Linked DNA regions of Homo sapiens: region 1 is reported to be linked to region 2. The links are microRNA targets in miRTarBase. Many come from high-throughput screens and were not tested one by one. Region 2 holds a microRNA gene; the other region holds the end of a gene's coding sequence.
What was found. The annotated mature microRNA hsa-miR-1258 reads AGUUAGGAUUAGGUCGUGGAA and lies in region 2 at 2,043-2,063, opposite strand. An mRNA with a match to its seed (bases 2 to 7 or 8) in the 3' UTR can be bound and repressed. Matches are read on the target gene's strand: a 7mer-m8 pairs with bases 2 to 8, a 7mer-A1 pairs with bases 2 to 7 and ends in A, and an 8mer does both.

Region 1 (3,000 bases), not on the chromosome of region 2:
GCTTTGGATGCTACACATCAGCAGTTGACACCTTCCCAGGAGCTGGATGATCTGATAGATTCTCAGAAGAACTTAGAGACTTCATCAGCCTTCCAGTCCTCATCTCAGAAATTGACTAGCCAGAAGGAACAGAAAAACTTAGAGTCTTCAACAGGCTTTCAGATTCCATCTCAGGAGTTAGCTAGCCAGATAGATCCTCAGAAAGACATAGAGCCTAGAACAACGTATCAGATTGAGAACTTTGCACAAGCGTTTGGTTCTCAGTTTAAGTCGGGCAGCAGGGTGCCAATGACCTTTATCACTAACTCTAATGGAGAAGTGGACCATAGAGTAAGGACTTCAGTGTCAGATTTCTCAGGGTATACAAATATGATGTCTGATGTAAGTGAGCCATGTAGTACAAGAGTAAAGACACCCACCAGCCAGAGTTACAGGTAAGGTCCCAAAAGTGGCCAGGCTGGAGGTCTTCTAATGTAATTTTGTTTTATTTTGAGAACACTGCCATTGGAATGTTTCTACACGATCCTATTAAGAATAATGTGATGCCCTTTCAATGCAACTTTTCATATTTAGTTTATTTTGTTAGCGTGATTTTAGCTCTGTTTGTATTATGATTTTTAATCAAAATCAATAGATTAAAAATAGTTTGACATTCAAAGTGACAATGTTTAGCAATCAAATTTACATGTATAGATCGTCAGGGAATAGCCCAAATGTTTTAAACGCAAAAAAAAAGACAAAAAAAAACCAAAAAAAAAAAACCTACAAAAAAAACTTTGTTGCTAGGATTAAGGTTATTCTAATTGCTTTACTCTCAGGAAAGTGTAATAACGCATGGGAATTCTGTACGTTATCACTGTAATGGAATATCCAATTTACAGATAGTATGATATACATTTCATCATTTAAGTAAGGGATCGAAAACATTTCAAATTGCTCTATCTGGGCTGATAGACATTTCGTCATTTAAGTAAGGGATCGAAGACATTTCAAATTGCTATCTCCATCTGGGCTGATCCAAAATTCTGAGATTGTTGGCTACCTATATTTTGTTGCAGCTTTTAAATGTACTCTGAACTTCCAAACCACATTCATTCCAGCCTGGTAGAACAAATATTCTTGGATCTTTGATCAAAGCCTGGAATGATAGCTTTAATAAAAGAAGGAAAAAAAAAAAGCACCCTCTCTTGATCTCAACTGTAACAAGGCTGTAATTCCATCAAGCGATTCTACTGACATCTAGTACAGTGTTGAAGCCCAAGTGGTTGGCTGGTTCCAGTATTAGAACTCAAGTTGAAATTATATGATTAACTGAAATTTGGGGCATGCATTATTTATTATACATGGCCTACAACGGTTCTGTCTGCGCTGTTACGTATTACCTACACTTCTGGGTTTTTTTGTTCTTGTTCTCAGCCTCTCTTTAAGAGTTCTTGGGCCTTCCTTTTCCCTCTTTCTATTTTAACAGTTTTAATTTTAGAACCATTTACATTCCAGTAGGTAATTCACTATGCGCTTTATATGCCTTAGGGCATCCAAATAAAAAACAATAGGGTAAACATCCCCAAAACCCACCTTTAAAAAAAAAAAAACCCATACAGATTTCCATATGTAATAAAACCCCGTGTTCTTGGATAGATATTAATAAGGTTGTAATTCCAACTGGTGACATAACTCCTGTGAGGGATAAGAATGTGTCTGCTTATAGTAATAACATCAGAACCTCTTTGTGAAATTGCGGCCTTTAATGTACATTTTAATGAAAGGGTGCATTAGTATTGTACAGGGGTCTTGTAAAGTCATCAAAACTTGCTATGAACTCTAATTGCCATTTGAAGCTACTGATTGGCAGTGGCTCTACTCTAAAACTGCTTTTTAGCAATTGTATTTTTTTCCTGATTATATTTTTTAATGTACTTTGATGTTTATGCTGATGAGTTTTTTATGTACTTTTGGTGATGTTTCAGTCTTATGTACTCTTCTGACGTCAGAAAAGTACCACTGGTTGTTTGCAGTCTTATTGTGTAATCAGCCTACCGCAGGCTTCCATGTATAATAAAGTAATTAATATTGTGCAAGTGTAAAACACTTCTGTTATAAAAGCAGTGTTTGGAAAATAAGAAATATTAAAAATGGTTACAAAGTATTAGTTAATTTCCTTTTCCCACTTTCCTCCCTTTAGCTTTAGCAGCTAAAGGGTCACCAACTTGTCATTGCAAGATTCTTAGAAAATGTACTTAATCTTAAATACGCTGAGTACTAAAAAGTGTTTATTTCTTATTTCAGTAAGTGCGGTAAGTTCTATTGAGTACAGAGTACAAGCTGTAATCAAAGGATGGAGAGGACCTTTACCACTGTATCTCTTAAGCTGTATGATTTTTCTCCAGTTTGTTTTATACAGGTTTTGAATTTCTTTAACTTTTATTGTGTGTACTGAATACTGCATATGTATTATTCTGATTGTTTGCTCTAGTTTACTACCAATAAAAGTCCTGTTAATCACAAGATTGAAGAAAGGAGATATTACTTAATATCCAGTAACGTTTTTCAGAATTTTCTATTAACATTTTCTAAAATATTCACATCCGTGGTATAACCTGCAGTTTAGAGGCTTGTATTTTAATTGTATTTTTTTAACTTAGGTATTTTGTGTTTCTAGGTTTATTTTAGTTGAAAATGGACTCAAGGCCGGGAGTGGTGGCTCACGCCTGTAATCCTAGCACTTCGGGAGGCCAAGGCGGGTGGATTGCCTGAGCTCAGGAGCTCGAGACCAGTCTGGGTAACACAGTGAAACCCCGTCTCTACTAAAATACAAAAAATCAGCTGGGTGGGGCGGCGTGTGCCTGTAGTCCCAGCTACTCAGGAGGCTGAGGCAGGATAATTGCTTGAACCCAGAAGGTGGGGAGGTTGCAGTGAGCCAAGATTGTGCCACTGCACTCCAGCCTGGGCGACAGAGCAAGACTCCGTTTCAAAAAAAAAAAAAAGGATTCAAATTTATAT
Region 2 (3,479 bases):
CTTTATTTATGTGAACAAAGACTCACTCCTGTAAGAAGTTAGCTAATTGCTCAATTTTTAAAATATAAATTGTTGCTATGAAAAATCAAGCAATGATATCTTCAAATTCAGCTTGGAAAAAAAGTCTAAGGGCAGGGGAGGCGGGGTGGCCAGTCCAGGGACTTAAGATCCTTGTCTTTTTCATGGTGCCCAACTCCACATAGCATTAGTCTGTACAGGCATTTCACCTTTCAGAATTGTTTTGAAAGATTTTTTTTTCTCTGAATCAGGTCACTTGCCTGAGAAAAAGAATGCTGAGAGCACCTGATATGCTTTGATCGATCCTCATTTAATAGTTACACTTTTTAAAGTTATCTTCCAGCTGCTGACAGGTCTCACTAATTGGCCATATTTGGGTGACAGGTACTAATGACAATTCCCTCTCTGATTTGACTATAGAGGAGACACCTCCGTTTGGTTTCCTTTGTACCTCAGTTGAAGAAAAATACATTAAATTCATTGTTTTCTTTTTGCTCTGTGAATCTGTATATTGTTAAAATGCTGTAAAATATCAACATTTTTTTCAATATAGATGATACTTAGTGGTTATTAAACTTCTATAAAGAGATCATTACTTATGTAATGTAAAATAATATACTGCAAACAAAGCACATAAGAAACTATGCTGCAAAACATTGTATCACCAAGATGATTCCAACATGGACAGTAATTTTTCCTTTGTTAGGAGAATTCACCTTCCCCAAAGCATTTTACTACAAATGCATCCAAGAGAGGTCAAGGAGATCTACAAGAATAGCTATCTGATTTGTGGTTTTTATCCCAAGCTTCCTCAAATCACTTTTGGAAATAGGTAAGAGTGTAAATTATAAATCCACAAATATTTAATTTATGGGAATATAGAATCTGAAAAACAACCAACACTTTGATCAAATAAGCATCTTTTTCATCTTAAAAACCTCAAGTAACAGAACTTGCAATGCTGTATTTTGCATTCTAAAGGCATTTATCTGTTACAGGGAAGGGGCAGCACATACTCAACGCACACATGGCATCAAAATAAGATTAAAGGACTCTGAAAACCAGTGAAATTTGGCCTTGGAACATTTAAGGGAGTTCTTTCAAGCCAAAGCCTTTAACTTACCTAAGATGTAGCTTATTGACTTTATGAAAAGCCCTCTTTTTAATTAGATAAATGCATTTCCTACCGTTTCATGAATTGTGTGGACGCTGCCAGTTTCCACGCTTTAGGCTAGGCCCTATAACAGAAATGTTTTGTTCCTTCTATAGGAACATCTTTTGCTACTACATCTTGACAAAGTTTGCATTCCCCTTGGTGTGATATTCCTCAGCAAAGCAAAACCAAAAGGAAATGCAAACCTCATCTCTGTATGAAAATGAAAGAAGACGTTTCCCAACCCAAGAACTTTTGAGAGCATTCCAAAACTGCGTTATTTTGTATTCATGGGCGTGGGGAGAGGGGGGATACTTCTTGGCAATTTATTTCCCCTGAAGAACAGCACTCCCTATCCAGGTTCACCATAAAAACTGTGTGTCCTCCAGAGTCTAGGGAAGCATCGTCCTGCCAGCTCTCCCTTCTCCCCACAGGCCCCCGCACATAACAGTGGCGAAACAGATGGTCCTCCCCCTCCCCTTCTCCTCGTCCCTTCCGCAGTCCCACAGTGTCCTCCCACCCTTCCCTGACACCTTCACCAGCGCTTAGTGGCCGAGGCCGCCCGTCAGGGCTCCCAACAAGTGCAAACTTCGGGGACCTTCTCTCTGCTCCTCTGCCCCCATCTCATCTGGGTTCTGCTGCAGAACTCTCCCACGACCCCAAGCTTCGACCGCTACCCTCCTCACACACCTCGGTCCCCTAACTACCCATTTCCCGGTCATTGAGAGAAAGACAAACCCCAAACTTCCAGCCCAGGTGACGAGGCGCTGCGGCTAAACATAGCGGGGCACTCTCCTCGTCCTTTCCCCTCTCCATCCGTCCTTGGGAATTGGAGCCTACCCTGGGGAACAGAGGAGTATGCTCCTGTGGCTTCCACGACCTAATCCTAACTCCAGGGACTCGCAGGAGTTAGGATTAGGTCGTGGAAGCCACAGGCGCCTGGGCGCCCTCCTCTACAAGTGGGACCTTGAGACAAAGTGCAAACTCTACCGGGAGGGGGGCTCCTGGCCATTCCCTCGGGCGGCGCGCCCAGGTGCAGGCTCGCTCTGCGGAGGAGGGCGGGGGCCGGGCAAGCAGAGGGCGCCCAGTCCGGGGGCGCCGGTCTGGGCTGGGCGCCCAGAGCTTACCTCGGCGCGCGGGCCGCGGGCGCGTGGGGCAGTGGCTCCTCCAGCCGGGAAGCTGTTGCTCACGCTCCGGTGGTTGCTGCGGTCCCGCCAGGGCTGCACCGGGGCTTCGCGCAGACGTTCTCCCGCGATCTGCTGCAGCCCAGGCGGTGGCGGTGGCGGTAGCAGCGGCGGCGGTGGAGGTGGCGCGGGCGACAGCTCGGCCCGGCGCGGCCCCTGAACTGTCCAACTCTTGCCCGCGCCGGGCTTAAGCGCCCGGCCGCTGCCCCCGCGCTGAGCGCCTGCGCACCGGGCCTCGCCCAGGTGAGGGGCGTGTGCCCGGAGCCCGCTGGGCGCGCCCGGCCCGGCCCGGCCCCGCCGCACGCCCGCCCCCCTGGCCTGGCCGAGGACCCCGGGGTTTGGACGTGCCAACGCCACTCTCGCGCGCCGAAGCTGTGACGGTTTACTAAGCAGAGACTTGCGAGGCACACAGAGAGGGAATGAGGCGGAACCGTTCGGGGGCTCGTTGACACTGCAGAGCCTCCCGCAGCATCGCTGCCTTAAATCCCGCCTTTCCAGGCGTGCGCGCACAGCGAGCCAGAGGAGGCTCCGTCCCGACCTGGGGTCCCCCGCGGTCCTCAGCCCGGGGGCTCGGGTCCCCGAAGAGATCCTTGGCAATGGCAGAGGTCCCAAAGCCTAGATGCCAAGCCCCGCGATGGGGCGGATGCTTCCAATATTAGTCAACCCAGAGTGAAACTCTCTTCTTGGAGATCGTCAGACCAACTATTTGTTTTTCCTCTTTGACCACCCCTGGGCTAGCAGAGCACAGCTAGCAGCTTCGGCATATTTGGCGGAGCCGGGAAGGCCCGGAGCGCAAGAAGGCATCGCAGCCTCGCAGCAGATCTGAAAGGGTTGTGGGCGGGGGGCTCATTTTCGCCGGATTTCTTTTCCGTGTTTAAGTTTTCAAAACTAAAACCTGTCATCGGTTACCCTGATGTAGAGGGCATCTTCTGAAAATTAGTGCAAACATGGCCAAGGTGCTTGGTTCTGAAAGGGAAAGCACTTAGAACACTTAAGAAAGGGAAAATAATTTTAAAAGAGCAGTTTTCTGAGATTACTTCTTTGGGGAGAAGTTCAATAGTCATAAATGACAAGAGAGTTGTGTTATATAGCAGGGATTTTTTTTTAACCAGATGATCTTAAAA

Region 1: miRTarBase lists ZNF281 as a target of hsa-miR-1258. The part of its 3' UTR that is shown has no 7-base or 8-base seed match.

What each region holds. Positions count from the first base shown.
Region 1 is chr1:200,404,456-200,407,455 of GRCh38, reverse strand. It overlaps ZNF281 (zinc finger protein 281), which reads left to right. Exons shown (of 2, transcript NM_001281293.2): 2 at 1-2,505. The coding sequence ends at 438. Among named protein-coding and RNA genes, the nearest start is that of ZNF281, 4.1 kb to the left of the region's middle.
Region 2 is chr2:179,858,803-179,862,281 of GRCh38, forward strand. MIR1258 (microRNA 1258) reads right to left here and starts at 2,106; the gene lies at 2,034-2,106. It overlaps ZNF385B (zinc finger protein 385B), which reads right to left and starts at 2,810. Exons shown (of 10, transcript NM_152520.6): 1 at 2,299-2,810.